Linked DNA regions of Homo sapiens: region 1 is linked to region 2. The links come from fine-mapping of genetic effects on gene expression. A gene starts in region 2. The other region holds a variant in brackets. All regions are shown on one strand. Distances are between the middles of the regions.

Region 1 (11,088 bases), 630 kb after region 2:
TTGGCCATAGGCGTTACACAAATCCCTAAGGGAACCGGCCCAGTCATCCTGATGATCATTATGGGTGCCTGCTGTGTTTTTATGCGGAGAGGCAGAGTGTGTTGGCAGCTTTACATGGTGGTGGGTTATGACGGCTGCACTGAGCCAGCGCAAGCTCGGGAGGCTCCCCTGAGGTGGCGCAGACCATCGGGGCTGCCCCGAAACCAGCTCAGTCAGAGCCCACCTTACCCTGTTTACAAAGGGGAGGCAAGGTGGAGCATCTCCTGTTTGTTGATTTGATTGTTGTGTTTGCTCTGCCAGCCTCAGAGTGAGGTATTTAACAGGCAGGACTTCTAAGCCTCAAGGGCCCATGGGCAGAAATGCCCCAGACCCCATGAAGAAAATGATGCTTTTCCAGCAAGCTGCACCCCGGCCCTGGGCAAGGGGCAGCTGCTTCCACCCTCCTGGTCCCTACTGCCTTCATATTCCTGCTCCCTAGCTCACCCCCTCCCTCCTAAGTGAAGAGAAGTCAGATCAGGCTACTGTTCTGACATGCACACCTTCTCTTCTGTTCCTGGGACCCTTTTGTTTTTGTGTTTGTTTTAAGAAGGAGCCTTGCTGTGTCGCCCAGGCTGGAGTACAGTGGCATGATCCTGGCTCACTGCAACCTCTGCCTCCCGGGTTCTAGTGATTCTCTTGTCTCAGCCTCCCAAGTAGCTGGGACTACAGGTGCCCACCACTACACCCAGCTAAATTTTGTATTTTTCGCAGAGACGGAGTTTTGCTATGTTGGCCCAGGCTGGTCTCAAGCTCCTGACCTCAAGTGATCTGCCCACCTCAGCCTCCCAAAGTGCTGGGATTCCAGGCATGAGCCACCATACCCAGCCCATTCCTGGGCCCTTCTAATGTCTCAACGCAACAATCTGATCCTGAAAACCACCCATCCCTTCACTTTACTCTTACCCTTCCTTCCCAGGATTGCATTTGCAAAACAAAAATTCATGCTTAAAGCAAGCATCAGGGGGAATCCATTGTTCTGCACCCTGCCACAAAAATGTCTAGTGCATCATCCCGGGGATAGGCCTGGGAGCCGGGACTCCATGGTTCGCAGCCAAGGGCAGAAGCTGGAGGCAGGGCCTTCCCACGGGCAGCTACAGCAGCCACAGACGGGGCCATGCAGCAGAGTCCAGATGGTTTTGTTCGGGCTCTTTGGCAGACGCGCAGTTCTCCACGCTGAACTGCATCAGGGAGCACTTAAAGCAAAGCTTGGTTTGTGTTTTATTTTGCATGGAATGGGGGAGACAGGAGTTGCCAGGGAAACAACCCCTCGGAGCATTCTGCTCTGGGGTTCTTCATCGGGTGGGGAGGGGGGCTTCCCATGAAAGGCACAGGGGTTTTCTCAAGCGTGCTCACACCTGGTTCTGCTTTCTTTCCTTCTCTTGGAGGGCTTGAGGGTTCCACCTCCCAGGCCTGCCCATTAGGCTGGCAGGCACCTTACCCCACAGAGCCTGCCAGCACCAGTACATGCCAGGACCTAAGGCCAGGATCAAGTCCACAATGAGCAGGGCCCAGTGCAAAATGGAAATGCAGGGCCCCTTGATCAAACCCATTAGGTGGGTTCAGTGTACACTGCTCAGGGGATGGGCACACCAAAATCTCATAAATCACCACTAAGGAACTAATTAACCAAATACCGCCTGTTCCCCAAAAACCTATGGAAATTAATTTTTTAAAAAGCGTATAGCAACAAGACAAAAAAAAAGAATAAAGATATAAAGAAAGAAAAAAAAACCTGTTAGGAATTTCAAGATATCAACAGCAGAGCAGGAAATCAAGCCAAGGACCTTCTGAGCAAAGGGCCCTCAGGTCGCACACCCAGAAGGCCGATCCTGTTCAAGACTTCACTTTGCCTGAGCAAGGCGGGTGCAGGATAGCGGCTGAGGGACCGCCGTGGTATGCAGCCAACAGGACCCTTTCATTGAAGTACCATCCACATCCCTTACGTGAGAGGAGGGGAGAGGCACTGGGAGAAAAATTCTCTGTATTTAAGGATTTGCAGCACACACATATTTTTTTTTTTAAATCCAAAACTCAGGGCTTGAGTTAGGAAATCTAAGAAAAGAATGATTCTGGTTGTTCTGGAGTTACTCTCTTTTAATCTGCAAGGATTTGGGAGAAGTAAGAGCATTTGGGATTCATAGTAAGATCTAAGGTCACTTTGTGCCGGTACTGTGCTACGATCTGTGGCTGCTGAGATCTACCTTAGAGGGGTTATTTTTGCCATTTTACAGAGGGGAAAACTGAGGCTAAAGGAAATGCTGTAACTTGTGTCAGGTCCAGCAGCTTAGAGCCTGAGTTGGGTGCGGTGGCTCACGCCTGTAATCCCAAAATTTTGGGAGGCCGAGGCGGGCAGATCACTTGAGCCCAGGAGTTGGAGACCAGCCTGCCCAACATGGCAAAACCCCATCTCTACTAAAAAATACAAAAATTATCCAGGTGTGGTGGCATAGTCCTGTAATCCCAGCTACTTGGAAGGTTGAGGCACAAGAATCGCTTGAACCCGAGAGGCAGAGGTTGCAGTGAGCCGAGATCGTGACACTGCACTCCAGCCTGGGGGACACAGTGAGAGTCTGTCTCAGAAAAAAAAAGTAGTGGAGCTTGGATTCAAACAGATGTAGTCAGACCACAAAGCCTGCCTGCCTGACCGCTTTGCTCAGTGTACTGCCCCCAGGCTATGAGGCCAATGTCGTGGAACCTGTTCATTCTGGTATTTTTGTAGCTCTGGCTAAGTTCAGGTGGAATGTCGCTGAATATATAATACCTGGGGACCAGAGAGGAAATTTGGGTGTTTTAATGGAAGGATTTATAGTGGCCAAGCATCAGACAGGACCATGAGACCTGGGTCTGTGTATTTTAGTAATAGACTCCGCTAAGGCGCTGTTGAATCTCTGACACAAAGCTGTCAGCCAACATAGAGCTTTGGGCCATTTGCTTTCCTTGCAGTGTCTCTCCACCCACCTGGAGTTGATGCTTAACAAGAAAGAAAAATACAATTTCCTTGGGCTTCAGAGTGAAATGCACTCTGAGCCGGGGACAAAAGAGGCAACTCTGTAATAAGAGATAATAGATATTCTCCTTCCCAGTACTTAACGCAGACAAAATAATTGTAAAATTCCAGAGAGCAGATTGTGAGGATAAAAGAATGTGGCCATTCCAGAAGCAGTTTTTATTCCAGCCCAGTTTTATATGGGGTGCTAGGTCCACTAGCCAACCATTGACTAGCAGTGTCCCCAGCCTGGGAAGACAGGGTGGGTCAGATACAGGAAATGGCCATCACGTCTCTAAGGTGGGCAGAACATGAGCAGGTCAGAGAGGGTCAGGAGCCTGAGGTCCGAGGACTCTGGGGTAAGACCCTGAAAAGCATTTAACTCAGTGGCCAGAGAAAGGGGGGAGCCCAGGGAAGCTGTTCCCCGCAGAAAGACAAGAACAAGATTCCTACTTTACCCCTTCTTTCCGCAAAATAAACCGAAATTCCCAGTATGTGGAAGGTGATGCAGTAACCAGCAAATATTAATGCAAATGTGTGTGCACACAAGTTGAACCTCCTGTGATATTTCCCAGAGGGTTAAAGTAACTTTCTTTTTCATCCAATGAAAGGAACCCCGTTCCTGGAGCAATTGGATGCAGCCCTAATTACTTCCAAACATTACAGTCAGCTTCTCAGTTAACGAGCTCACTGGTCCGAAGGAGGAATGACCGCCAGGGCCCCTTCATTCCACTTCTCACCCTCCCTGGCCAAGCTTGAGGGAGAGACTCTGGCCGCAGCGTCCTTCCGGGCGACAGAACTCTTGGTTTTCTTTGTGCTGCAGCAAGAAGAATGGGCTTGACAGGCTCACACTGTGATCTTGAGTTGCCTGCCCCCGAAATAAGGTCCCAGCCTCCTCCGCCCTTTGCAAGGCTCTTACACATTAGTGAGCAGGAAGTGGAGTCCCGATGGGAGGCTGGGAATTTGAACGCCTTCCCATTTCAGCACTGGAGGGGAGGAAGCTCAGTTCAGCACTCCACGCAGATGGCTACCGCTCCCTCCTGAGCGCTCGCTCCTCTCGCTCCTCTCCCCTCACCCGCCGCCTTCCCTGCTGGGTCCCTCTCCCCGGTCTCCACCTCTCCTCCCTCTCCTGGAAGGGAAAAGTCTGCCAAGCTGGGGACTGCCACGACCAAACCAACAAAGGCCGACCGAAGGCGGAGAACTTGAAAAGAACTTGTTTTGTTCCAGTTAAGGAACCTGCAGGAAAATCCACACCCACATTGCCTGGTTTTGAACTGGAGAGCTGCGTGTGTGTGTGTATGTGTGTGTGTGTGTCAAGCAAGAGGCGGAGGAGGCACAGACTACGGTCTCTGTTTTGATAAGGAAACTGCCAGCTGTCGAAAGTTAACCAGCAGAGAGGGGAAGATGGCCCAGGAG[C/G]CAGCCCCTCCTGAGTTTTAAACTACACTGTTTTCTGTCCAGATATTCCAATGGAGACAGTTGGAAAACCTGTACTTCAGAGAAAAGAAGTTTTCCGTGGAAGTTCATGACCCACGCAGGTAAGCTTGAAAAGTCCTTTTCTTGCGGGATGGCGTGGCTCTCGGCCGGGCGTGTTATGGATATTATTTTGGGGCTGTCGTTGTTCATGGTCAGTTTGGAGCAGGGAGCGAGGGTGGGGGCTCCTGGGGAATGGAGCTCAAATCAGACAGTGAAACTTTCTTTTCAATTACATGTGTTGATAAATGCAGTGGGTTCGCACGTGTGTGTAAGTAGCAATCCCCTGACTGTCTCATCTGGCCACATGTGTCCCTGGCTCGTGTGTGTGTGTGTGTGTGTGTGTGTGTGTCAGTGTATGTGTTTGTCTTACCTGCCGGGGCACTGGAAGGAAGCTTTATAGCACTTTGTAACACACACCAGTAAGTCCCCATAGGAAACTTTTGCTATAGAAGAGTCTGAAGAATCCCTCATTAGAGCTTCTAAAAGTATTTCAGGCAGGACGGTCAATGCGAAAATGAATTTGTCACCAAAGCAGTTGTGCTACGTTGTTTTATTCCAGGAGCTGTAATTTTAGGATGTTAGTATTGTGGGTGGATGTGAAAGAAATGAAATTATTTTTCCCTCCACCCAAAATCGTACCCCAGAGAGCACCAGGGTTGTAAAAAGTCCCTGTACTCTTAAGTCAGATGCAAGACAGTGGGGCCCCAGGTTGGAATGCAGGGAGCCCCAGGTGGCTGGGGTCTGGGCAGCTCATACCCACTGTTTTCCTCTCTTTGTCTGCCGCTGGACCTAAAGTTATATGCATCCCCAAAAACAGCAGCGTAATTCCCTAAAACCAGGCCTGACAACTAAGAAATCACTTTCCATAAGGTCAGAGACATTTACAATAAGAAGGTAGCCCCAGGGAGACAGAAAAAAGATCAGACTCTACAGAGGAGCAAAAGTGGGTTTTAGGCGCTGTTGACGCTCCAGCCCTGGGCTTAGAAGGAGGACTTGGCACCAATTCCAGCTCACACATGGCTTCTGATGCTCAAAACAAGCTGCAGTCCCTCCCCATGAGCTCTGGACAGGAGGGAGATTTGGAGTTACCCCGCCCAGTGAGAGGGCTTGGACCTGTGCAGTAGCCCCTGTTCCTGCAGCCCATGATAACCCGGTAGGAATGAAGCCGTGCTTGCCCTCCAGGGTAATCTGCCTGAAACAGCCACTCCTGTGTAGGGCAAGAGCTTATCTCAGCACCACGGTTACTACAGGAATAGTTAGTGGAGAGCAGCTGAGAGTTTCTGCATCTCCACAGTCAGGTGAAAATGGTAGCCTTTAACAGAAAAATATTTTATCCGGTGTTTCTCAGGGCCCTGCAAGGGGTTTCGCGGCCAGAAGCCCCACTCCATGGAGCACAGATCCATCTGTGCAGGCCAAGTGGGGTGGGCGGGGAGATTTCAAAAATAAGATTCCAGCCAAGAAGAAACTCACTGTTCATTTTCCAGGTGAACTGAATTGGACCAGGTTCTTAGGCATGTAAGAGAGGGGAAATTTAAGTACAGAAAGAGTGAAATGAACTTTGCCACAATGGGTCAGATGCAGAAAGGGGATGCTCCATAGGATAAAAATGAGGGGCTGGGTAATCTAAGGGGCTGAGCGCAGGGAATAGACCCTCCGCCATGCCTGTGCTCTGCTGGGAATTCAGTGAACACCCAGGCACCTTGGACAAATCCTTTAACCACGCACGCATATATCTGCACATGTGTGTTCGTGTTCTCTGTGCGTCTGTCGCCCTATTGGTGAGTACTGCTAAACTCTCTTTACCAAAGCCCAGGGATATAGGAAAGAATCTAGATCTCACACGTGACTATTCAGTGGGCCTGTCGCCTATTAGACAGCAGTGATCAATGTCATGTTTCTTGCGAAGCTTCTGTGTCCTTGTCGGGTGCTGTGGCGGGGAAGGAAGGAAGTCGGAGGCAGGGTCTTCTTCCTTAAAGATCTTCTAGTGTAACTGAGAAGACAGGCAGAAGAAGGAACTTTTATTTTGAGACACGGTCTCATTCTGTCGCCCATGCTGGAATGCAGTGGTGCAATCATAGCTCACTGCAGCCTCCACCTTCCAGGCTCAAGCAATTCTCCCACCTCAGCCTCAGCCTCCCGAGTAGCTGGGACTATAGGTACACACCACCGTACCCAGCTTTTTTTTTTTTTTGGAGAGACTGGGTCTCACAGTGTTGCCCAGGCTGGTCTCAAATTCCCAAGCTCAAGCAATCCTCCCATCTTGGCCTCTCAAAGTGCTGGGATTACAGGCGTGAGCCACTGCCTGGAACCTGGCTGAGAAGAAGGAACTCATGGAGTGTCACAAGAAACAAAGAAACCTGCTCTAGACGACAAGTAGCTAGTATACAGGAGAGGCAGGATTTGAACCTAGGAGGTCTGGCTCCAGAGCTCATGCCCTTTATCTCTATACTGTACAGAAGGGCCAGACGTCGTGGGCCATGAAGGGTGAAGGACAGGGTCACCAGAGGCCTGGCTGGTCAGGAAGGGAGAGGCTTACCAGGAAGGAGAGGTCTGAGTTGGACCTGGAGGGGTAACTAGGATTAAAGCCACGTGGTAGGGCCTCAGGGGGATATAGATGTCAGGTGGGGGCTTCTCAATTAGGATAAACAAATGAGGGAGGGTCTGGCTGGAGGGAAGTGGGAGTTGGAGGAGCCCAGAGGAAGAAGCAGAGCTGTCTCGTCCCAGGCAAACTCGCTCTGAGTACACTGAGTTAGCCTGCAGACAGGCAGGAATGGGGGAGAGGCCCAGGGAGGCCAGAGGTGGAGACCCGGGATGACTTCAGCATTAAAGACACACAAGGAAAGGAAATGGCTTCAGGTCAGTTATTTAGCATGGCAGAGCCAGAGCTATGAGCTGTAAGATCTTTCTTGCACTCAGTTCTCTTTTTCACATCCTAGTGGTGCCTTTTTTCTCTTGTATTGAGAGTTACTATTTCACGTATTCATGAGCCACGTGTGAGTGCGTTACATGCATAGAACATGGAATGATCAAGGCAGGGTACGTGGGGTATCCATGGCCTTGAGTGTTTTTTTGTTTGTTTGTTTGTTTTGTTTTTTGAGACAGAGTCTCACTTTGTCCCCAGGCTGGAATGCAGTGGCGCCATCTCGGCTCACTGCACCCTCCACCTTCCAGGTTCAAGCAATTCTCCTGCCTCAGCCTCCCAAGTAGCTGGGACTACAGGCGTGCGCCACTACACCCAGCTAATTTTTTTATTTTTAGTAGAGATGGGATTTCATCACGTTGGCCAGGATGGTCTCAATCTCTTGACCTCGTGATCCACCCGCCTCAGTGTTTACTATTTTTATGTTGGTATCATTGCAAGTCCTCTCTTCCAGTTACTTTGAAGTGAACCTCGCGGTGCTTTTTAAGTTGAATGTGTCATCCTATTGCTTGTGGCCTTGCTTATTTGAGGTAGGGAAGAGGAATGTGATTGGCCTCACGTTAGTTTGGTGTTCCGGGCTCAGCCCCTCCCCCAAGCCAGGAAGGCAGTCAGAACTGCAGTAATAGGATGGGCAACGCCAGATACGGTCATTTAATGAAGATGTAATCGATGGGAATGATTCAGGGCAGAGGCTGCTTTCTGGGCCGATGGGCTCAGGTGTGATTGCACCATTCCCTGTGGGGCACTGGACAACACTGTGCACTTTCTCCCCCTGGGCATCCTAACTCAATGCTTAGCTTCATTTCTGAGCTTCTCCAGGCTGGGCCAATATTTCACTTCTACGGTTTGGGTAAAATAGGAAGGGCTTGAAGCGAAAGATGAGGAGAGGAGATAAAGTAATGATAGAGCAGGAGAAGAACTCTGAGTATCTGATTTAGATGCTCCGGGGAACTACCCGGACCTGACCAGCCACTTACCTCTTCTGCCCTCCCGGTACCTGAGAAATGGAGGTACCTAGCCTTGCACCACCTTTCAAGATACTGTTCTTGTCTAATTCAGCTTTTCTGGGGGGAAAAAAAAGTCATTCATTTATTTCCAAGAGCAAGAACTGCTATGGAAGCCAAGCTGGGAGCACAGATCCCTGTTTTCTTTTAAATTTAGAGAGACTGGCGAGGGATCTCCCCCTCGCTCTCTCCCTGGCTCCTTTTTTCAATTATTTTCAACTGTGTGCTCTTTCACGCTCTGGCTTTTTTTTTTTTTTTTTTCCTTCACTTTTGTTGGAACCGAAGGGAGAAAAAACCTGTGTGGACTCAGTAACATTAACCACCGGATCTGAATTTCTCCTTAAAAGTGAGGGTGAACAAGACTCCACTTTAAATCTTTAGCACCCCCGACCCCCGCCCAAAGTAAGATATTGCTGGCAGCTTTGTTTTCTTTAAGGGAAAATTAGCCATGAAAAAAAATGTTATTGTTTGTAAGTCCTGATTACCCCCAGGTTTCTTCCAAATTAGATATGTTAGTCTTGAGAACATACATTTTGTTTCTGATGTCCATGTAAAATGCCCCAAATCCCAGCCCACCTTCCTGTCAACTTGTCTCACATGCATGCGCACACACACACACACACACACACACACATGCAAACACACATTCTTAGATTTCATTTGCAAAATAATCTGCCTATCCTATAAAATATACTTCACTAAGAGCATGACCATATAACTCCCCCTAACTCCATGAATGTGGAGATGAACAGTTCCCGTTTTCACTTTTAAAGTCTGATTACTCCATGTAGATTTAAAAATGTATAGACAGGGCCAGGTGCGGTGGCTCATGCCTGTAATCCGAGCACTTTGGGAGGCCGAGGCAGGTGGATCACCTGAGGCCGGGAGTTAGAGACCAGCCTGATGAAACCCTGTCTCTACTAAAAATACAAAAAAGTAGCCCGGAGTGGTGGGGGGCATCTGTCATCCCAGCTACTTAGAAGGCTGAAGCAGGAGAATTGGTTGAACCTGGGAGGTGGAGGTTGCAGTGAGCTGAGATCTTGCCAGCACGCTCCAGCCTGGGTGACAGGGCAAGACTCCATCTGAAAAATATAAATGAAATGTATCGACAGACGTTGGGGGAATTGGGGCTGGGCACATTTCTCTCTGCCTTTCTTCTCCTGATTCTTTATACCCTCCCTGCCCTCTGAATAGATTGGAAATTGATCACCAAATCTTCAAGGAACATTGGGTTAGTTATATAAGAAGTCCCAATTCCCTGGGACGCTGTAGCCTGTGGTGATTAGAAAATAATTTACTCATCCCCACCGTAGGCACATTTCCTGTCTCATAGGGAGCATCATTGAAGGTTTTCCTGTCTGCGAAGTTTGTCTTGGCCCAGTGCCAAGTCCAGGATCGAAAAAGGACCATCCATTGACCTAGAATGACCCATCTTATCCCAGACAAGGCCGAGGCTTGGCCAGATTCTGAACTCTAGGGAGTCAGAAAATCAGAAGGTGGCCTTTGCCCAGCCAATGATGTCTGTAAGCTGTGTGCGCATGTGTGTGTGTGTACGCCTAGGTGTATGTGAGAGCTCATCTATCATCTTTACGCCAGGGCTTCTAGGACGCAGTGGGTTCTCTACAGAAGCTGTTGACTGAGAAATGGTTTCTCTCAACAGAAATGGGATTGAACCTTGTGATTCTTGCTTCCCCAGGGCTTCAGTGACAAGGAGGACGTTTGGGCACAGCGGCATTGCAGTGCACACGTGGTATGCATGTCCGGCATTGATCAAGTCCATCTGGGCTATGGCCATAAGCCAACACCAGTTCTATCTGGACAGAAAGCAGAGTAAGGTGAGTGACCAGACCTCTCACCAAGCCCGGGCCATTGTCTGCCTCTCTTAGTTTAGGAATGAGGATCGGATGGGTGGGGGAGGCGCCATGTCCCTTGCCCGGGTCCATACCTTGCACAGATACAGGCTTGCCTCTTAGGGCTACAGATGGGAGGGATGAGACTAGCTCTTCAAGAGGGCACATTCCATGCATCTTGGTCCAGGGGGCTCTGACCACCATCAGAGCCGCTCAAGCCGCTGACTGCAGCCAGGTAGGCCCCTTTTGAGGAATTCCCACTGTGCTTTTGGCCCTCGGGAGAATCCTCTAGCAGCGTGAAGGCAAGCCCTTTTTGGTGTTTAAACAGTGGTATACTATCTTCCTTTTGAAAAGAAAAAAGGAATCTTTCTCAACGAATAGACACCACCTAACTGTTTAGGGTAATTGCTGTGAAAACCCTCAGGCGGTTCCAACTGCCAACTCCATTTTTTTTTTTTTAATGCAAAACTGGAAACGTTAAAAAAAAAAAAAAAAAAAAAAAAAGCAACTACCCTGTTTCCCTAAGGTAGACCTAGAGCCTGGGGCCTTGGTAAACAGACTTCCTCCAAGGAGATGTCACCACCCCTGACTCTGGGCACGCAGCTGCGTTTTCTGGTGGGTGAGAGGATGACGTCTCCTTGGTTCACACAGGGCTTATATCAACACTCTGCCCCCTCTTCCTCCAGCCCTGTCTCCCCAGACTCCCCTGTCAGCCCCCCACAAGCCACTCCCATTCATTCTCCCTCAGGGGAAGAGCCCTGCCAAGATGGCCCTGCAGCTTCTCTCAAGATCCTGCTGGCTTGGGCTGGGGGAATA
Region 2 (11,088 bases):
GATATTGAGCAATTTGATTATGAAGTGCCTTGGTGTAGTTTTCTTCATGTTTCTAATGCTTAGAATTTGTTCAGCATATAATCTGTGAACATGTTGGCTATTATTTCTTCAACTCAATTTTCTGTGTGTCTCTTTTTTCAAGGATACAAATGATATATCTATCAGGCTACTTGAAGATGTCCTATAGCTGACTGATGCTTATTTTGTTCTTCGAATTTTTAAATATTTTCCATGTTTCTAATTAACTTTTTGAATATATTGAATACAATATATTCAAAATTGTTTTAATAATTAATGTTATTTAAACAATAATAATTGTTTTAATATTTTCTGCTGACTCTAACATCTATGTTCATTCTGGATGATTTTGATTGATTTGTTTTCTATTTAGTGACCATATCTTCCTACTTTCTTCGTACATGGTAATTTTTATCAGATGACATTCTAGTTTATAAATCTACATGTAAATTATACACAATGTAAATTTACATTATAGATTTAACCTCATTGAGAGTTGGATATTTTTGTAATTTTATAAATGTTCTTTAAGTTTGTTTGGAATCCAGTTAAGTTACGTGGAAATAGTTTAATCCTTTTGGGTCTTACTTTTCAGAATGGTTAGGCAGATTCAGGACAGTGATCAATCTATGACCAATTATTTCTCACTGTTGAGGCAAGAGCCATCTGAGTGTTCTAATAATGTATTAGGAATTATGAAGTTCTCCAGTCTGGCGGATGTGAGCAGACACTGTTCTGGCCCTGGGTGAGCACTGGTCACCATTCTTTCCAATCTTTTTATGTGGTTCTTTCCCCAGCCTTGAGTGGCTTCCCCACATGTATGTGGTGATCAGCACTCAACTGAGTGCTCATGGGGACTCTTTGAAGATCTCAGAAGTTCTCTTTCTCTTTACACCTGTCTTCTCTTTGGTGCTCTGTCTTGTGAACTGTGTTCATCCCAATCTTTCCTGACTCTCAGCTCTGTCTCCATGACTCTGGAGAACACTTGATTCCACGTAGCTCCACTCTCGGTTCCGTAGCCTGGAAATACTCTTGATTCAATAACCTGGGACAATTGTAAGGCTTCTCTAATTTGTTTCTTATCTTTCATGGATCACTGGCATTTGTTGTCTTATGTCCATTAACTTGAAAAGTATTGTTCCGTATATTTTACATTTTTTGTTTGTTTCATGTGAAGTGTAGACTTGCTCCCTCTAATTCCATCTTGGATAGAAGCAGGAGTTCTTCACATATTCTTAAAATACAAATATTTACATGGTTGCAATTAGAGAATATGTCTCATATTACTTGCAAATAAACATATCTCAGACATTTGCAATACTTCTAAATAGTTTCATAATTGCCATTTTAATAGCTGCAAAATATTTCACAGTGTGCCAAATCTACTTGAGCACAGTGTATACATTAATGAGTGATTTATGTCCCATCTCTTACTAAAAATGAATTTCAGATGGCTTACTGACAAAAAGGCCTACTCAATAAGAGTAATAGAGTATGCATTAGAAGGAAAAATAAGATTGAAAGAAAAGAAGGAAGTAATAATGCCAGTTATGATAGTATCTGCTGTCATTGAAAGTAAAATTAGATTTTGGGCATTCTGGAAGTCCAGTGTGCCAAGTGTGATTAGGTACACTATTCTCATTATCAGAATTAAAAGGGGACCAAAAGAGAACTCACAGTTATTGAATGTCTACTATGTGCAACTTAAGAAAATCTCTAATAAATAATACTTTCTTTGAGTCTCACCTCACCCTTGTAATTCTTGCTCGGGATCCTAGAGAAAATGACAGAATAAGCCTTCAGATTCCTGAGAGTAAAATGGCCTGGCAGGTGTTCTGGGGCCAAAGCCACCCACACCACAGGCTCTTTCAGGATAATGACATTTTCCTTTGTACTAGATTCTGAGAGGAATTTCTCACCTGGGGCAACTTATATAGATGGCAGTGGGTGGTCTCATGGCCAATGTCTGAACAACAGCTTCACGCTAAATACAGAAGAGTATTTGTTTGTTTGTTTTGAGATACAGTCTCACTCTGTGTCCCAGGCTGGAGTGCATTGGTGCAAACTTGGCTCACTGCAACCTCCACCTCCCACCTTCCTCCAAAGGATTCTCCTGCCTCAGCTTCCCAAGTAGGTGGGACTCCAGGCACGTGCTACCATGCCCAGCTAATTTTTGTATTTTTGGTAGGGAAGGGGTTTCGCCATGTTGGCTAGGCTGGTTTCAAACTCCTGACCTCAGGTGATCCACCCACCTCAGCCGCCCAAAGTGCTGGGATCACAGGCATGAGCCACTGCACCTGGCCCAGAAGAGGTTTATGAAGAGCTGTTTTTTGCGATGGGTGTGACATTGAACTATGCTTCATTTGAGGAGTTTTTAAAGGAGGATACATTGAAATGGATTTCATATATATATAGCTTTCTTGGGAGGTAAGATTAACCAAGAATCGAGTTTAGTGACTCAGAGGATGGGATTGCTGTCCCCACACCTTCTTCCTTCTGTGACCTTGAACTAGTTCTTGAAAGGACCTGGATAGCTCATATTCCACTGCTTTTTGATGAGGGCCTATTTAATATGAATTAACTTCTCTTCCTCACAAGCTGCTCGATAACCCCTTGCAGTTCGATTTCTGTGTCCGAAACTGTACTGAAACACCCTTCCACCCCACCCAGGCATCTTTGTGGAATGACCATTGCCACTCGAATTTGGGAGCTCTCTTCTCCTTTTCCTCCTTTGACAACTCCTTCTCCATCAGCCTGTGACCTGTCCTCACAAACTCCCCATGTCCTATCCACTCCCTGAGGTCTTGCCATTGCCTCTTCCTCTTTGCGCTTTACATTTTGATATCTCCATTGGTGCCTGATTTAATCTTATTGAGCATGGGCTGCTGTTTGAGCTCGATGCTTGGAGCTGTAGAAGTAAACAGAGAAGAGCAATGCTCAGTTCCGAAATTAGTTTGTTCCTCTCTAGTAGGGGGATACTAGAGAAAAGCAAATCACTGCCAATTTTTTTAAAGAAGGAATTTAAAAGTTGTACAAACAAAGCAACTATGAATGCCCAAATAGAGGAATTGGGAAGAATTTCATGAAGTATGCAACTTTTGACACTGAATGTTGTGTGAACGTATATGCTGTTACCAGACTCAGTGTATGTGTTTCCCAGATTTACTTGGCTCCTCCTGTCTTCCCTGGGCAAATTGAGCCACTTGCTCATTGGGAATCCCAGGTGCTGCCATTGTCATTTCAATTCCTGGCACTGCTAGCTGTCCTAGCCTCCCAGGACAGAACAGGGAGGGTTTCCATCCCACACACTGAGGCAGGAGCCTCACCACCCCAGGGCCCAGGTCCTGTCTGACTGACTCACAGAGGCTATGGTTTCTTCCTTATCTTCTGGGCTCAGATGCAATGCCTTTCATGCCTACCTGCGGGAGTTGGTAACATAACCCTGAAGCGCAAGAGGGTTAATGTCTGATGGAATCAATTTGACCAAAAAGAGTCAACTAATGGACAGCACTAGGCTGTTAGCTCCCTCTCCCTTCGTCTCCTTGATGGGTTATGCCAAAAACTGGAAGTTCCATACCTGTCTGGAAGCTCTTCCTCAGGACTGAGTAGCTGTCCTATGCCCACTTTGGTCAACCCCACCTTGTACCTGCTCTCATTCCATCCCTGCCTCACCTTCCCCACACCCCCACTCTTGCCACCCTGAAATTGCACCTCCCAATGATGTCTTCTTGCAGAAGATTTGCTGCAGGCTATTTTCCAGAAAATCTGGGCTGCAATTCAAGCAGACAGGGGATGAGGCTTTCCAGGCAAAGGAGCCATGAGTGAAGTGCTGAGAGAGGAAGGCGGGTGTTCTGGGGGCCAACGTCAAGGGCTGACACAAAATCTCTCAGGCCGGCCTCTGCAACCTAAGGATGTCCCAGACTGTCCCATACCTGAGGCTGCTCCTGCCTGTCTCTCCTCAGGGTTTGTCTTTTCTCTGCCCATATCCACCAGTTGCAATAGCTCCAATATTAACGTTTTTTCTTAGCTTTGGTTATTTTCCAAACACATAGTCCATGTAGAATCAGAAAGCAAATGTCCTGAAAAAGATGTTCTGCTGTTCCTGAAGTTCCAGTGCAAAAGCTACAAAAAAAAGAAATGGTAAGCCCTCCCTACTCTGTGCTATCCAAACTATTTGGGATTTTTTTTTTTGCATTTCTTACATATTATCTTGTATCATTAATGATTCTACCAGATAAAAAGTTCCTTGAGGGCAGAGGTACAAAGTCGGCATTCTGCAAATATCAGTTGAATACATTTAGAAATCCATCTGAAAAGTTAGGATAAGGTCCCTTAAATCACTATTATAGACCTGTTCCTTAAATCATTGTTATTATTTTTCAAATGTGACTATACATATTATTTTGAATAGTATTGCAATCCACCAGCACAGTCAGAATGTCCTGACAGTTCTGTGCAAGGCCACATGCATGCGACTCAAGTCATGCTTTGAATCTCCAGGCACCTGCTGGCAAGGAGGGTTGCTCTGGTGTTCCGGGGATCAGTAACATGAGACTCCATCCACACACTGTGGAATCAAGGTTCAAGCTCATTGGGCCACTATAGGAAAAACAAAATGGGAGAAAATTTTTCACTCACTTATTTTATTTTGTTTTATTCTTTTCTTTTCTTTTTTTTTTTATTTTGAGACAGAGCCTTGCTCTGTTGCCCAGGCTGGAGTGCAGTGGTGCGATCTCACCACAGTGCAACCTCTACCTCCCAGGTTCAAACGATTCTCCTGTCTCAGTATCCCAAGTATCTAGGAACACGGGTGCCCACCGCACCCGGCTAATTTTTGTGTTTTTCATAGAACAGGGTTTTGCCATGTTGACCAGGCTGGTCTTGAACTCTTGACCAGGCTGGTCTTGAACTCTTGACCATAGGTGATCTGCCCACGTCAGCCTCCCAAAGTACTGGGGCTACAGGCGTGAGCCATTGCACCCAGCCTTCACTCATTTATTGAATATATTTTAGTACTTACTCTGTGCTAAGCACTGTGATGAGCAAATACTTTTTATTTTTAAATTTTTTTAGAGACAGAGTCTTGCTCTGTCCCCCAGGCTGGATTGCAGGAGTGCAGTCATAGCTCCCTTCAGCCTTAAACTCCTGGACTGAACTGATCCTCCCACCTCAGCCTCCCAAGTAGCTGAGACTCTAGGCACACACTACCATGCTTGGCTAATTCTTTTATTTCTATTTTTCTTTTTTTTTTTTTTTTTTGTAGAGATGAAGTCTTGCTATGTTGCCTAGGCTCACCCTGAATTTTGGGTCTCAAGCTATCTTCCTGCCTCAACCCCCAGAAGTGCTGGGAATGCAGGTGTGAGCTCCCATACCTGGCCCAAATCAATAGTTTTAAAAGTATAAGTAATAAAGGAACAGTAGCTATGCTCGTGCACAGGAACATGAAAGGTCATTAATTTCTTCCCCCTAGTTTCTTATTTCGAAAACTGTTCTCTATGTTTCTACATTTCACACTGTCTAGTTAATTTTCAGGATTTTTTGGAGCCATTACAGGAGGTGAGTAAAGGAAGAAATCAGAAAAGGACATACTAGAAGTATCAGGAATAACCATTTTTAGTTGAATACATGGACTCCAGAAGAAGATACAAGCTTGACAGTGCTCATGAAAAGATATCTAATTTTCTTAAGTCTTTGACTCTGGAAAGCCCTTTGAGCTACCCATTATATAACAAGATTCGGCAGGTTTTTTCTTTCTCCCTTCATTGACATCTTCCGGGGAAAATGCTGCATGATATGATTTTCAAGGCTAACTTGCCTTTTCCTGTTAAGCAGTGTCCCTTGTGACAAATTCACCTCCTATGCCTCCCTGAACTAGGGAGGCTCCTTCAAAATTCCTAACAGGCAGCCCTGTGGAGAGATGGGAGGGAAGGGATGGGAGGGAGGAAGGGCGGGAGGAAGGGAGGGAGAGAGAGGTAGAGTGTGTCTGTATGCGGCGTACATGTGGTACAGCCAGGGAGATCAGAACGCTCACAGAACAGGCAGTGCAATTCCATGTTCCTCTTAAGTATGTTAGCCCTACCGGGAGCTGAGCTGGCCAGTCTACTTGGAGAGGAAAAGTAGATCTGGGGAAGGTGGAAGGGTCAGTTCCTAAGTGACTTCCTCCTCGGGGATGGTAAGGGCATTTGCTGATCTCCAGTGACTGCCTGGTGCCTCATGGTCAGACTCGGCTGTCTCACTCCCAGATATCTGATTTTGCAAAAAGGGACACACCTATCTGCAGCAAAGAAGACACTGACCAGATTGCGAGCGGTATGTTGTGACATTCAGCATGTTTATGCAGCAGAATTGCTGAGAGATGCAGAGAGAGGGGGTGGCTCGGGCTGCTTGATTTATCTGCAATAGGGAATGTTTTATTTTAATTGTCAGTTAAAGGAAGAATTGCTGCCAGGGCGAAGGTAGCAGTTAAACATTCCGTGTTCTAAGCTTTCACGTTTGTGTTTGATGCGGTCTCCCTGTCTGTGCCGCTTTGCGAAGCTAGGGAGGGCTCACTTTTAAATAACCTGCAGCTTCCTATTTTCCTTCTTCTTTTTTTTTTTTTCCTCCCTAAGCACAGTTCCCACCCTGTCTTCCCTGACCTCCTCCCCACCCTGTGTGAAAGGTGGCCTATCTTCCCCTTGAGCCTTTTGCTCCCTAAGTCTGGATTTTGGCTGCTTTTTCTGCAGGTGCTTTTGGATGCTCTGTAGCCACCCGGGGCCCAGGAGGACTGACTCGGCAGCAGGATTCGTGCATGGGAATCGGAGACCATGGCAGTGCAGCTGGTGCCCGACTCAGCTCTCGGCCTGCTGATGGTGAGTGTTCAGACAGGAGGTGGGGCCCGGGCAGCGTCCACTCCAGCCTCCCCTGCACCGTGGGCTGCTGCTGCCGCTGCAGTGGCTGCAGACATGTTCAACATTGCTCCGCTTTATCCCGCAGGCTCTTTGGAAATGCTTTCTTGGGTCAGAGTATCAGCATGACAAAGCACTTGCAGGGAAAAGAAGCTGTAGATTTGCCATTTCAGAAACTTGTTGCTGAATGCTATTTTGAGAGCTGTGCTTGCAAACAGGTGCTAAGAGCCCCTCGAAATAGATTGCTAGGATGCCTCCTCCAGCTCCCAGCATCCTTTCCCCCTTGTCTTTTGCATCTAAATTGAGCTGATTGTGTTTGTTTTTGGATATCTTCTCAGGGCAACTGTGGAATCTGTTGCCCATGGGGTGACAGAATGGGGTCTTCTTTCTAGGCGCCCATATATCTGCTCATACTTTCCTGTAGAGGTGGTGGAGGAGGTTCACTGTGGCTTCAGTGATGCTTGGGCTACTGAGTTGGGAGCAGCTTGTTTCCTATCTACCATTGATGGCCAACCTTGGCAGGACTTGTCCAGGCATTTATCTGTGTGTGAGCAGCTGACTCACCTTATGCCCCTCTGGAATTTTCACCATATTAAGAAAGCCCTAGCTCTTACCATATTAAAGCACACAAGGACATGGGCACTGTCTTGTTCCAACCCAATTGGCTTTTGGCTTGACACTAGGTTCAGCAGTGGCTTTTGCCATGGTTTTGCATCTCTCTCCTTTCCCAGGGTTCCCACACACCACGGTAATACTGGCTGTTGTCGGAAGTAGCCTGCATCAGGCTTGGCATGGAAATGTTTCCAGCATTTACACAGGAGATTTTATGAACCAAGCATAAGTGCTTCTGTGTATATTGATTTGTGTCTTCGGAATGAGGAGGGGAAATGCAACTTTGCAAGGCCTGATGAGTTTATGGAGGTGACTTGGAAGAGCCGTCAGTGGGAAGCCTGCCCCCTGGGTGGCAAGCCAGGTCATGTTAAAAGGAACAGATATCTTGGTTCTTCGTTGCTCAAAATTCCACTGGGTCCACAGATTTAGTTGAATTGCCTGAAATCTATCTCATGGGCCTCTGCTGACTTCTCATTTCACTGGGGGAGTAGGACTAGAAGAAATGAAATTGTCAGTTTCCAGAGAAATTACCCATTACCTGACTTCTTTCCCTTACTAATTCTATCGTCTGATGATACTTTATCCTCCATCGTCTACCTGTGGTCAAATAAACTGGATAGGAATTTTCATTCCATCACTGAGTATTCGTGATGATGGCTGGCACTAAAATGCATTATCTATGGGGTCTAGGAGACTTCTGGGAACCTGGGAGCCTGGGTTATATGCTCTGAAATACAGGCACACATATGCACACACACACACACACACACACACACACACACATGCATATGTATATTATATTATCTAGTACACTAACAGAAATAAATCCTGCATCGTGTTAATATAGAGGAGAAAAGTTTTCTTGAAAAATATCTTTAGGGAGAGTTAGACCCGCTTGTCTCAGCCTCCTACTTGGACCTTTCTTCTATACTTAGAAGAAAGATGTGTATCTGCTTTATTCCAAGCCCCTAAGCATGAATCCTTGGTATCCAAATTAAATGAATAGCATCCATTTCTGCTGTTATACACCCCCCCCCCCCACCCACACACACACACAGGCTCTTCTGGTCCTGGGTCTTCCACATATTATGGCTGCTGTCCTGGTAGTGTCTACATCTCAGACTTCACCTTCCATTTGTCAGTGGCCTCTGCCCTTAGATCTGTCCCTGGCACTCTCCTCCTGCCCGGAAAAAAGGATCGTGTTCTCCTCTCTTGGAAACCAGGGGAAAGAGCTCTTGACACCCTGATGGACCGTTTGATTAAAGAACCCTGGAGTACCATGTGTAATCAAAGTCTGTATACATTTTCTGGTTCATGTTTAGTTCAGGGAAATTTTCCCCTATGGACTTTGGTGCTATTTTTTTTCCTTTTTAAGGGTAAACCCCAAAGTAATTGCTTCCCTGACATCTTGCATGATGCATCTTAAAATTTATAAGCAAGCCGAGGAGGAAAGAAAGGAGGAAAAGAGGCCATTTAGCGGAGTTGCTTTGGCTGTGAGTTCAGGAAGGAAGCTGTAAACATTATTATTTATGAGCTCATTCATCAGCCAATCAGTTGTCAGTATTTATCGCGTGTCTGCTCACTGAGGAAAGTAGCCTGGCATAACAGCAAGAGCCAGAGCTCATAAACACACAGTCTGTGGGAGGCTGATACCAGGTTGGTGGATTGCAGTTCTGATTTTGTGCTATGGAGTCATCGGGGCTAAGGGGTAGGTGGGGAGATGATCTGGCCACACCCCTTGCTTTTGGATAAGGAGACACCCAGAGGTTACATTCAGCTTAGATGCTAAATGCTTCAGGGCAGAGCATGTTTAATTGGTTACAGAAGCGGCCACAGAGTCTGGAGGGTTGGACAGCCCTGTGCTCCATTCTAGCCTTGCCACTCATTGAGTGATCCTGGGAATGTCCCTTCCTTTCTCTGCCTTGGTGATGCCATTTGCTAACTGAGAGTGCTCTCTGATGTCTAGGTTCCCTTCCATTCTGTTAAACACAATTTAAGATCTCTAAGAAACAGTGTACAGATGAAGTTCCAGGATAGCCAATTCGAGGGCTTTATTTAGCGTTATGTCTCTATTTCCAACCTTGCACATGAGCAGTATTGCTATGAAAATGGTGGAGTGTGTTCCCACTCTGGCTTTTATGCTAGGGCAGATATGTTTCATATTATTAGCTGACACGGATGATCATTAGTGTTCATTCATACTCTGCCATCAGGAGTCTACCCCACAGGAACCTAAGTTGGTCCATTGGACAAAAGCCAATGACTTTTGAACAGTGTCTCAGAGGCCTTTTCAAGCTAGGGCTGGGTTGCGGTCAGCTGGGAGGGGTCCCAGGTGGTAAGCATGCCTGGACCATCTTGAGGTGGGAGGACCTCACTGATTCTTTCAACGGACAGCTCACAGAGGGCAGTGATGCCTCTCCACACAGGACAGAGCCACTCATATGACCACGGAAGGGGGGACTTGGAGAGAAGACACATTCTGGTGGTGGAGATGGCCTTTTAGGCTGTTGAAAAGCTGCCTCTCCCATCTTTGCAAGAATCTCAGGCAGCGAAAGAAGATACTGCTGTGTTCACCAACCCGTGAGGAGGCTTCAGATTGATGTGACTAATTGTAGAGCGGGAAGCTCTTGGCTACGTGTCATTTGTTGAGGGCGTGTGAGTTCAGGGAAAGCTGCAAGGGCTGGAACATGCTAGAGCCGAGGATTAGTTTATCTTTAGAGCCAGGATAAGGATGAATAACCAAGGGGCTTCAAGGGTGTTATGATGCCATTTCGGTTCTTAGATTATAAAGGCTCACCTTCAGGACAGCTAGATTAAAATAGTTTTTAATGGAAATTAACTGGATAATAAATAATGCAAATTAAGCTTTTCTATAAATGAAGTGTCTTTAAATACATTATCTCATTTAATTCCATCCATGACCCTATTTTTAAGACCAAAAAAAATCTGATAATTAGAATTTGGGAAACTGTCAATGGTCACATAAGTGAAACTGATGAAGCAAGTTCTCAAAATCTCGGTCCTCTGAGTCCCAAGCCAGTGCTTTCTCTGACAGCATATCAAAGCTCAACAATTTGACTTCTAGGACCTTCTAACACTTTGGATTCGCTCCTGAAGTTAGCTCCCCTCTGAACCAGTCAGCATTTTCTGTGTTTCCAGGTGAGGAATCCTGTCTTTCTGTTAATCATCTGTTCTTTTCCATATTGAAGTGTAAAATAAAAAAGGGATACCACAAGTCTGGCTCAAGATGTCTGGCTTGACTCTAGCAAGAAAAAATATTTTTTTATATCGATGAAATAGCTGCCATTTTTTCAAGGTTCTATTCTCTCAGACTCTGTTTCTAGGAAATTACTGAGAGTCATATTTTATAACATAAAAAATTAAATGTATAAAAACTCAATTCACAAGTCAGAGAAGTTAGTGGGTGATTAACCACAATGAATGAAGAATGTCAATTGGATTATCCTGAAGTTTCTTTCCATTCTAAATATTTGATTTCAGATTTCTGGGCTTCTTTTGAATAGACCAGCTCCCTTGTCTATGTTTAATAGATTTCAATGGGTAACCTGCTGTT

What was found. PIP is the estimated chance that this variant, and not a neighbour inherited with it, causes the effect.
Region 1: its variant is fine-mapped to the expression of FRMD4A in whole blood (TOPMed, PIP above 0.99).

What each region holds. Positions count from the first base shown.
Region 1 is chr10:13,700,509-13,711,596 of GRCh38, reverse strand. It overlaps FRMD4A (FERM domain containing 4A), which reads left to right. Exons shown (of 25, transcript NM_018027.5): 13 at 4,484-4,560; 14 at 10,119-10,257. It overlaps LOC124902379 (a long non-coding RNA gene), which reads right to left and starts at 4,031. Exons shown (of 2, transcript XR_007062061.1): 1 at 3,945-4,031; 2 at 3,187-3,842. It overlaps LOC105376426 (a long non-coding RNA gene), which reads right to left and starts at 1,109. Exons shown (of 4, transcript XR_001747371.2): 1 at 943-1,109. RefSeq lists enhancers at 3,692-3,751, 3,822-3,871, 3,902-3,951, 3,360-4,095 and a silencer at 10,804-10,853. The variant C/G (reference allele first, on the strand shown) is at 4,442.
Region 2 is chr10:14,325,836-14,336,923 of GRCh38, reverse strand. It overlaps FRMD4A (FERM domain containing 4A), which reads left to right and starts at 6,000. Exons shown (of 25, transcript NM_018027.5): 1 at 6,000-6,327; 2 at 6,741-6,866. The coding sequence starts at 6,822.